3 linked regions of the Homo sapiens genome follow. The protein of the gene in region 1 purifies or fractionates together with the protein of each later gene. This does not show direct contact. Each region holds a gene or a part of one and is shown on either strand. Other genes may lie near its edges. The genes, in order: TEX13B, ARID1B and ARID2.

Region 1 (3,660 bases):
CTATGGCCTATCTAAAAGACTATATAACTATTAAGAGGGATTATCACCCAGGTTGAAGGAAGGGTAGGATTATAGAAGTACTTTCCAAGCACTTAAAAATTATTTACAATGATCAGCTGTTACTGGGAGAAACATTTTTTTTCAATTTTGAAAAACATAACACGTTTATTATAAACAATTTTACAATAGAGAAAAATGTCAAGAATATTTTTTAAAGTACTGTATTCCTATTACCCAAAGATAACCACTGTTAAAGTGTTAGTATATAACTTTCCAGATTTGTGATGTATGCATACATATAGTTAGTTATATGCTCTTTGTAACAAGCGAAATTAGAGAAAAATGTATTTTAAAGTTAAAAACTTTTTTTCTAACCTCCAGTCCAACCCCACTTCCCAGAGATAATTAATGTTGAGTCTGCTATATATCCTCTCTCATTCTGTTCTCCAAGATTATAGAAACATACAAACATATGCAAACACACACATACACACAAATACGGGATCATAGAAAACATTACTCCTACAACTTTACATGCCCTTTTGTCATTGGCCATCATCATAGATCCATAGGTAGAAACAGATTCAGTTACAGTACAATGTCATGTAATACGTAGCAACGCTGGACTCAACCTGAGATTTGTCTGATTTATCTTGTGGGTCTCAGAAAGTCATTCAAGGTTTTCTTGTTTTTGTGTTTGTTTGTTTGAGACAGAGTCTCACTCTGTCACCCAGGCTACAGTGCAGTGGTGCGATCTCGGCTCACTGCAACCTCCGCCTCGTGGGTTCAAGCGATTCTCCTGCCTCAGCCTCCCGAGTAGCTGGGACTACATGCGCGTGCCACCACATCTGGCTAATTTTTTGTAATTTTAGTAGAGACGGGGTTTCACCCTGTTAGCCAGGATGGTCTCGATCTTCTGACCTCGTGATCCGCCCATCTCGGTCTCCCAAAGTACTGGGATTACAGGCATGAGCCACCGCGCCCGGCCGAAGGTTTTAAGAGACATATTCATATCCCTCTGATGGAAGATCTCTGATATTTCATGTTTTGGTAAAAAGGTGTATTTATGCTACTCCTAACTCTCTTTCTCCCACAGTTGCTTCAAGATTCAAGGCGTTTCAGTAGGGGAGGAGTGGGAGAAGGGGTGATGGGAGGAGTGTGGGGAAAGAGGAGCTAAGGGAGGAAAGGCAGGCCAGGATTTGTTAGGGTGTCTGGGATGTTTAGTCCTGAGCAAACAGGGGATAAGCTCCGCTCCTGGCTCCACCCTCTTCCTCCAAGGGCAACTGAGGGGTTGGGGCTGTTTCCTGCTCTAGAATATTCCAGTTGGGGGCGAAACTCCCCTGGCATGGCACAAACCATTATGATGGGGAGGGATAAGTCTTCAACTTGTTCACAAATACTTTTTTTGGTCCTAAGTCCTTCCGGACCACTCCTGTTTCTTTCAGCCTTCAAGGTCTCCCGACCATGTGGCAGGTTCCCTTTTGTCCCAGTGGAATGGCAGAGGCCTTCCTCACTCACTCCCTTTCACCCCTACAGTCTCTGGAAATTGGAACAGTCCCAGAGTAAAATCCTCATGGGTTGGCCCTGAGGCTTCTTTTCCCGCAGAGCCCTAGGAGGGAAAGAGGCCACCCTCTCTTCAGGCGTGTTAAGCAGCGGGGTTGGCCTGTACTTCCTCTGGCCCTGGCTGAAGAGGTGAGGCCTGGTGGGAGATGTCCTAGGGTAGGACAAGCCGGTCAGAGGGTCATTAGGAGGGTCTTGTCAGAGGTGGGAGGGCGGAGAAGACAGATGAGGGGAGGGGCTAAGGAGGAGGAAAGAAACCTATTGGCTGCTCCATCCACACAGGGCTAGTGAAACCGTTAAGCCCCTAGGCGATCATGGCCTTGAGACCTGAGGACCCCAGTAGTGGGTTCCGGCACGGAAACGTGGTGGCCTTCATCATCGAGAAAATGGCCAGGCACACGAAAGGCCCCGAGTTCTACTTCGAGAATATATCCTTATCCTGGGAGGAGGTGGAAGACAAGCTCAGGGCCATCCTGGAGGACAGCGAGGTGCCCAGCGAGGTCAAAGAGGCCTGCACCTGGGGCAGCCTGGCCTTGGGTGTGCGCTTTGCCCACAGGCAGGGGCAGTTACAAAACCGCAGGGTGCAGTGGCTGCAAGGCTTTGCCAAACTGCACAGATCAGCTGCGCTGGTCTTGGCCTCAAACCTGACGGAACTCAAGGAACAGCAGGAGATGGAATGCAATGAGGCGACCTTCCAGTTGCAGCTAACCGAGACCAGCCTTGCGGAGGTGCAGAGAGAGCGGGACATGCTGAGATGGAAGCTCTTCCATGCCGTAAGATCCCCCGAATGGTCCCTGTCCAATGCCTCTGCCCTGCCCCAACCTGTCCGGACCCCCTGCCCTGTCCCCAGAATGTGTTTCAGCTCTGCCTACTTCTCTCCAGGAGCTGGCACCTCCCCAGGGACAGGGCCAGGCTACAGTGTTTCCAGGCCTGGCCACTGCCGGAGGGGATTGGACAGAAGGAGCAGGTGAGCAGGAAAAGGAGGCGGTGGCTGCTGCTGGTGCTGCTGGAGGAAAAGGAGAGGAGAGGTATGCAGAGGCAGGGCCTGCCCCCGCAGAGGTCTTGCAGGGGCTGGGAGGAGGCTTCAGGCAGCCCCTCGGAGCTATTGTAGCAGGCAAATTACACCTTTGCGGGGCAGAGGGAGAAAGATCTCAGGTCAGTACAAACAGCCATGTCTGTCTTCTCTGGGCTTGGGTCCACAGTCTCACTGGAGCCTCTTCCTGTCCAGCTCCCTACCTCATTCACATACTCATACCCATGCCCTTTGTCCGCCTTCTCAGCCATACCCAATATACCCCCTTCACCAGCAAAGGTCACAGAACGGGTTCCAACTCAGATGCCTTTCAACTGGGGGGCCTCTGATGCTAGCCTGTGGTCAGATGTGGAGGCCCAGGGAATAGACCCTCAAGAGCCCCCAAGAGACAGGAGAGACTCCGAACTCCATCAGCAGAGAAGACCTCCAGTATATCGCAGGCCAGGGAACTGGGACTGCCCGTGGTGTAAAGCTGTGAATTTTTCATGGAGGGAAAATTGCTTCCTCTGTGGGAGGCGAATCTGGCTGCAAAAGCCTCAGTAAATTCAGAAATGTAAAATAGAACAGAAATATATCTCAATGGGAAATCAATCTTCAGGGGGAGAGGGGAGAGGTGGGAGGGGGATTGGGTGGAGTGGGGGAAAGGGGATGAGTGGGAAGATTGGACAGTAGGGGGGCGGGGAGGCGGGGTTGTGGGTGGGAGGATGTAGATGACAGGCAGGGAGAGACATGTTTTAATGACTCCATTTGTATTTCAGAGTATTAGTAGTCAACACTCCAGAACTACTGCAGTTTTTATTTGTGTGTGTGTCTCTAGCTCCCTATCTTAAGTATCTGTCGGACCTGGGCAGTATGTAACACCTACACTCTCTCCCTTCATGTAGGCTTTAGATAATTGGAGCAGGAGTGGATATTTGACCAATCCTGAGCCAAATGAATTTTTACGTTAGAAAATCTGAACAGACAGGCAGATTCCACAGTCAGAATAGTGTTGGGCAATGAAGCAGTGGGTCACTTGGAGTTGGGGCCAGGGTCACAGCCATGGACACCAAGGCCATAGCTGAGGC
Region 2 (3,753 bases), on another chromosome or scaffold:
GAGACTTGTGCTGGAGACCCTCTGTAAACTCAGTATCCAGGACAATAATGTGGACCTGATCTTGGCCACTCCTCCATTTAGTCGTCAGGAGAAATTCTATGCTACATTAGTTAGGTACGTTGGGGATCGCAAAAACCCAGTCTGTCGAGAAATGTCCATGGCGCTTTTATCGAACCTTGCCCAAGGGGACGCACTAGCAGCAAGGGCCATAGCTGTGCAGAAAGGAAGCATTGGAAACTTGATAAGCTTCCTAGAGGATGGGGTCACGATGGCCCAGTACCAGCAGAGCCAGCACAACCTCATGCACATGCAGCCCCCGCCCCTGGAACCACCTAGCGTAGACATGATGTGCAGGGCGGCCAAGGCTTTGCTAGCCATGGCCAGAGTGGACGAAAACCGCTCGGAATTCCTTTTGCACGAGGGCCGGTTGCTGGATATCTCGATATCAGCTGTCCTGAACTCTCTGGTTGCATCTGTCATCTGTGATGTACTGTTTCAGATTGGGCAGTTATGACATAAGTGAGAAGGCAAGCATGTGTGAGTGAAGATTAGAGGGTCACATATAACTGGCTGTTTTCTGTTCTTGTTTATCCAGCGTAGGAAGAAGGAAAAGAAAATCTTTGCTCCTCTGCCCCATTCACTATTTACCAATTGGGAATTAAAGAAATAATTAATTTGAACAGTTATGAAATTAATATTTGCTGTCTGTGTGTATAAGTACATCCTTTGGGGTTTTTTTTTTCTCTTTTTTTTAACCAAAGTTGCTGTCTAGTGCATTCAAAGGTCACTTTTTGTTCTTCACAGATCTTTTTAATGTTCTTTCCCATGTTGTATTGCATTTTTGGGGGAAGCAAATTGACTTTAAAGAAAAAAGTTGTGGCAAAAGATGCTAAGATGCGAAAATTTCACCACACTGAGTCAAAAAGGTGAAAAATTATCCATTTCCTATGCGTTTTACTCCTCAGAGAATGAAAAAAACTGCATCCCATCACCCAAAGTTCTGTGCAATAGAAATTTCTACAGATACAGGTATAGGGGCTCAAGGAGGTATGTCGGTCAGTAGTCAAAACTATGAAATGATACTGGTTTCTCCACAGGAATATGGTTCCATTAGGCTGGGAGCAAAAACAATGTTTTTTAAGATTGAGAATACATACCTGACAACGATCCGGAAACTGCTCCTCACCACTCCCGTCATGCCTGCTGTCGGCGTTTGACCTTCCACGTGACAGTTCTTCACAATTCCTTTCATCATTTTTTAAATATTTTTTTTACTGCCTATGGGCTGTGATGTATATAGAAGTTGTACATTAAACATACCCTCATTTTTTTCTTTTCTTTTTTTTTTTTTTTTTTAGTACAAAGTTTTAGTTTCTTTTTCATGATGTGGTAACTACGAAGTGATGGTAGATTTAAATAATTTTTTATTTTTATTTTATATATTTTTTCATTAGGGCCATATCTCCAAAAAAAGAAAGAAAAAATACAAAAAACAAAAACAAAAAAAAAAGAGGGTAATGTACAAGTTTCTGTATGTATAAAGTCATGCTCGATTTCAGGAGAGCAGCTGATCACAATTTGCTTCATGAATCAAGGTGTGGAAATGGTTATATATGGATTGATTTAGAAAATGGTTACCAGTACAGTCAAAAAAGAGAAAATGAAAAAAATACAACTAAAAGGAAGAAACACAACTTCAAAGATTTTTCAGTGATGAGAATCCACATTTGTATTTCAAGATAATGTAGTTTAAAAAAAAAAAAAAGAAAAAAACTTGATGTAAATTCCTCCTTTTCCTCTGGCTTAATGAATATCATTTATTCAGTATAAAATCTTTATATGTTCCACATGTTAAGAATAAATGTACATTAAATCTTGTTAAGCACTGTGATGGGTGTTCTTGAATACTGTTCTAGTTTCCTTAAAGTGGTTTCCTAGTAATCAAGTTATTTACAAGAAATAGGGGAATGCAGCAGTGTATTCACATTATAAAACCCTACATTTGGAAGAGACCTTTAGGGGTTACCTACTTTAGAGTGGGGAGCAACAGTTTGATTTTCTCAAATTACTTAGCTAATTAGTCTTTCTTTGAAGCAATTAACTCTAACGACATTGAGGTATGATCATTTTCAGTATTTATGGGAGGTGGCTGCTGACCCACTTGAGGTGAGATCTCAGAAGCTTAACTGGCCTGAAAATGTAACATTCTGCCTTTTACTAACTCCATCTTAGTTTAATCAAAGTTCAATCTATTCCTTGTTTCTTCTGTGTGCCTCAGAGTTATTTTGCATTTAGTTTACTCCACCGTGTATAATATTTATACTGTGCAATGTTAAAAAAGAATCTGTTATATTGTATGTGGTGTACATAGTGCAAAGTGATGATTTCTATTTCAGGGCATATTATGGTTCTCATATTCCTTCCTACCTGGTGCACAGTAGCTTTTTAATACTAGTCACTTCTAATTTAAACTTTCTCTTCCTGGGTCATTGACTGTTACTGTGTAATAATCGATTTCTTTGAAACTGCTGCATAATTATGCTGTTAGTGGACCTCTACCTCTTCTCTTCCCTCTCCCAATCACAGTATACTCAGAATCCCCAGCCCCTCGCATACATTGTGTCGGTTCACATTACTCACAGTAATATATGGAAGAGTTAGACAAGAACATGCAGTTACAGTCATTGTGAGACGTGACTCTCCAGTGTCACGAGGAAAAAAATCATCTTTTCTGCAAACAGTCTCTCATCTGTCAACTCCCACATTACTGAGTCAAACAGTCTTCTTACATAACAATGCAACCAAATATATGTTGAATTAAAGACCCATTTATAATTCTGCTTTAAATACATCTGCTTGCTAAGAACAGATTTCAGTGCTCCAAGCTTCAAATATGGAGATTTGTAAGAGGGAATTCAATATTATTCTAATTTCTCTCTTACAGAGTACAAATAAAAGGTGTATACAAACTCCGAACATATCCAGTATTCCAATTCCTTTGTCAATCAGAAGAGTAAAATAATTAACAAAAGACTGTTGTTATGGTTTGCATTGTAACCGATACGCAGAGTCTGACCGTTGGGCAACAAGTTTTTCTATCCTGATGCGCAACACAGTCTCTAGAGACTAATCCAGGAAGACTTTAGCCTCCTTTCCATATTCTCACCCCCGAATCAAGATTTACAGAAGCCCACGAAGAATTTACAGCCTGCTTGAGATCATCTTGCCTATAAACTGAGTTATTGCTTTGTCCTAAAAATTAGTCGGTTTTTTTTTTTCTATGAGGCTTTTCAGAAATTTACAGGATGCCCAGACTTTACATGTGTACCAAAAAAAAAAAAAAGATAAAAAATAAAGGTGCAAAGAAAGTTTAGTATTTTGGAATGGTGCTATAAAGTTGAATCTGTTGGTATTTGAGTGGATTTTTTTAATGTCACATAAGAGATACTGGGCGGCGTCTGCTCAGCAATAGCTATTCACAGTGTTTTGTTCGAGGAAGAGAATGATATAGAAGCATGTTTTACTGATGAAGGTGGCCTGTTCAAAGACTAGTTAAGCTGTTTTTTCAGAGTTATAATGAAGAATGATTTTTTTAAGGGCATATGGGCAGTCTCATACAATGTAAGCTATTAACTACCTCCTTTATGAAAAGAAGCCAGCCTTTGCCCTGAAGTCCATCCATTTAAAACTGTTGGAAATCTTTCATTTCCTATCAAACCACATGTACCTGTTCCCATGTCTGTTCACCTTTGA
Region 3 (3,653 bases), on another chromosome or scaffold:
CAAACTGCTCTTCTGCAGTCTAGACAGGTTGCTCTCTGGACCTGGTACACACCTCTTCTCAGGAATTACCTCCATGTTGAATCCCTTTTCGTTGAAACCCATTTATTTTCTTTTCTTGTTTTACTCTCTTCATGCAAAAGCATATCCTTCAATCATTTAAGACCCTACATGCCTAAAAATGTCTGTAATCTACCCTTACTCTTGATAGTTGTTGGCTGTACATAACATTCTAGATTGAAAAATCATTTTTCTTTAAAAACCTGAGGGCATTGCTTTGGTGTATTCTAGCACCAGCTTTGCTGTTGAGAAGACTAGTGACATTCTGGTTCCCATTTCTTTGTATGTGATCTGTTTTCCCCCCTCTAGAAACTGTTGTGATCTCTTTATTTCTGAATATTCTGAGGTTTCTTGATGATGATGTGTCTTCGGTGGGTGTTTTGTTGTTGTTTTCATTGAAGTCATTATTTCATTTTGGTGGGTCCTTTCAATCTGGAGATTTATATCCTTCAGTAATGGGAACTTTTCTGGTATGTTTCTTTTTCTTTTCTCTTTTAGCTTTCTGTTTTCTCTCTGTTTAATCTATTTTTTGGAAATTTCCTTAATTTTTTTTTTTTTTTTTTTTTTTTTTTTTTTTTTGAGACAGAGTCTCGCTCCGTTGCCCAGGCTGGAATGCAGTGGCACGATCTTGGCTCACTGCAAGCTCCACCTCCCAGGTTCACGCCATTCTCCTGCCTCATCCTCTGGAGTAGCTGGGACTACAGGCGCCCACCACCATGCCCCGCTAATATTTTGTATATTTAGTAGAGACAGGGTTTCACCTAGTTAGCCAGGATGGTCTCGATCTCCTGACCTCGTGATCCGCCCTCCTCAGCCTCCCAAAGTGCTGGGATTACAGGCATGAGCCACCACCCCCAGCCGGAAATTTCCTTAATTTTTAAGAGCTTGTTATTGGTTGCCAGTTGTTACTATTTTATAACATCCTGTTCTTAGTGGTGTCTTCTCATCTCTCTGAGGATATTAACACCTCTACTTTTGTAGTTTTTTCCCAATCTGTGTATGGTTACTCTTTCCTTGTAATTCCTCAAATTTCTGAGGATTTGGGGGTTTGCTTATCCTCCGCCCCCCAAGACAAGAGTCTTGCTCTGTTACCCAGGCTGGAGTTCAGTGGGGCCATCATGGCTCACTGCAGCCTCCAACCTCCTGGGCTCAAGTGATCCTCCCACCTTAGCCTCCTGAGTAATTGGGACCACAAGCATATGCCACCATGCCCAACAGTTCATTTTTTAATTTTCTGTAAGGTGGGGGGTGGGGGAGGGTGTCTCACTATATTGCCCAAGCTGGTCTTGAACTCCTCAACTCAAGTGATCCACCTGCCTCGGCCTCCCAAAGTGCTGGGATTACAGGCGTGAGCCACCACGCCTAGCAAAAAATAAATTTCTTTTACCCTTCGTACTGTTTTGAGGAGGGAATGGAAAGAAACTTGTTTAAACTTGTTTTCTTAGAAGCTGATTTGTATCCTAAATGGTTTTTACTAGTGTTGCTTAGAAATTATTTTTATTATCTGTTAAGGATATTAGAGTGACCCAATATTTATTCTTTGTTAAATCATCTCAAAAAACTAACATGTGAATTTAGAAGTTGAAAGAATATCATTTTATAAAAAAACAAATTAGGCATGTTTTGTTTTATATCAAAACAAAGTGAGTGCTTAATTTTTTAAAACCTCAAAAAATTAAACATTTATATCAAAAAGGAAATTATTAGTTACTTTAAAATCATCCTAGTGATTTCAGTTTATTCTTTCTAGTTTTATCCATGCAATATTCAAATAAAAGAATACTTTTTAACATGTGACTATCACTTTGAAAAATATGATTTTGTTAACTTTTTGAAACTAAAGTCTTTTTTCTTTCTTTGTTAAAATATTCATTGATTGTGGGGAAAAACTGATTGTACTTTGTAAAGTTATTTTTATTTTGTAAATTTTTTTTTTTTTTGAGATGGAGTCTCGCTCTGTTGCCCAGGCTGGAGTGTAGTGGTGCAGTCTCGGCTCACTGCAACCTCTGCCTCCTGGGTTCAAGCGATTCTCCTGCCTCAGCCTCCTGAGTAGCTGGGATTAGTAGCCTCCCAAGTAGCTCCTGCCACCACGCCCAGCTAATTTTTTGTATTTTTAGTAGAGATGGGGTTTCACCATGTTGGCCAGGCTGGTCTCGAACTCCTGACCTCGTGATCCGCCTGCCTCAGCCTCCCAAAGCGTTTTGTAAATTTTTAAATCAATTTTTGTACAACTAATTTTTCTTTTCCAGAAAGATCTTAGAAATTTCATACTTTATTTTAAAAGTTGTTAAATAAAATTTTAAAGAAAATCATAAAGATTTTATAAAACAGAAGTGTAAAGTTCAGTGAATTATCACAAACTGAACCACTCATATAACTATCTGTCCAAGTTAAGAAATAGAGCAATATCAGTTGAAATCTTTCATGTTCTCTCCAATCTTTACTCCATCCTCCTCTCTATAAGGGACCACTATCCTGATCTGTGACACCAGAGGTTCATTTTGCCTGATTTTGAACTTTCTATATGTGAAATCATACAATATTATTTTCAGCATTATATTTTTGAGATTGATTCATGTTGTTGCATGATAGTATTTTATTCATATTATTGTATTTTTTTCTCTGCTTTTGATGGGCAAATGGGTTATTTCCAATTTGGGGCTATTAAGAGTAATGCTGCTATAAACATTCTAAACCATATTCTGTTTTTTGGCCATATACGGAACATATTTCTGTTGAGTGTTTTCAAAGGATTGGTGACTCATAAGATGTTAAAAGTTTGCTACATGATGCCAACCAATTCCAAAATGATTTTATCAATTGACACTCTATAGAAATGTATGAGAGTCTCAGCTACTCCATGTACTTGCCAACATTTGGTATTGTAATTAAAATGTTTAATTTTATCCACTCTTTTGAGTGTGTGATGGTATGTATATATGGAAACTACATAAAACTGAAATGGCCCAAAAAACATGAAAAGATGCCCAACTGTTTATTCTTCAGTCTCATTTTTTGCTCATTTCTTTTCCTTTGCTTTACTATAGTAAAAGTGACTCCAGTCCCTACATTAAATTTTGATTTTGAATTTTTGCATCTTTTCCATAAACTTCTTTTCTACAGTGTTTTTTAATTCAAAATGTACGTGTCTTCATCTTCTCTTTTTTTCTCCTGTAGTTTCTTTTATTCGGAGTTATTTTAATGAAGGCACCAAGGTTCCTGGGTAATCTCATGCTGGCTGATATTTTTTTTTAACATTTAATATAAAATTTTTCACACATAGGCAAATTTGAAATGTTTGCAATGAAATTTTTTATACCTGCCACCTAGCTATTACCATGAATATTTTAGTATACTTGCTTTATCACATATCTGTCCATTTATCCATCCCACAGTTCTGGGTGATTTTTACCATTTTTCTCAGCCCCCAGCATCCCTTTTTTTTAGCTAGATGATGCTCACTTTTATAATCTCTCATTATATAGATAGCCACATCAATATTGTGATCTTTTGGGTAGAAAATTTAAGATTGATAAGTTTTTAGAAAACAGCTTTTATGGCTAATGGGGCATTTAGGATATAGTTAAGCTAGATGT

What was found.
Region 2: the proteins of TEX13B (region 1) and ARID1B purify together in Homo sapiens (affinity purification with mass spectrometry; one large-scale study listed by BioGRID and IntAct). This does not show direct contact.
Region 3: the proteins of TEX13B (region 1) and ARID2 purify together in Homo sapiens (affinity purification with mass spectrometry; one large-scale study listed by BioGRID and IntAct). This does not show direct contact.

What each region holds. Positions count from the first base shown.
Region 1 is NC_000023.11:107,980,342-107,984,001, reverse strand, and holds TEX13B (testis-expressed protein 13B), read left to right. Parts: upstream 1-1,631; 5' UTR 1,632-1,692; intron 1,693-1,842; 5' UTR 1,843-1,874; coding exon 1,875-2,333; intron 2,334-2,442; coding exon 2,443-2,922; 3' UTR 2,923-3,138; downstream 3,139-3,660.
Region 2 is NC_000006.12:157,207,378-157,211,130, forward strand, and holds the end of ARID1B (AT-rich interactive domain-containing protein 1B), read left to right. Parts: coding exon 1-514; 3' UTR 515-3,402; downstream 3,403-3,753. UniProt on the Homo sapiens protein: Involved in transcriptional activation and repression of select genes by chromatin remodeling (alteration of DNA-nucleosome topology).
Region 3 is NC_000012.12:45,900,553-45,904,205, forward strand, and holds part of ARID2 (AT-rich interactive domain-containing protein 2), read left to right. Parts: intron 1-3,653. UniProt on the Homo sapiens protein: Involved in transcriptional activation and repression of select genes by chromatin remodeling (alteration of DNA-nucleosome topology). Required for the stability of the SWI/SNF chromatin remodeling complex SWI/SNF-B (PBAF).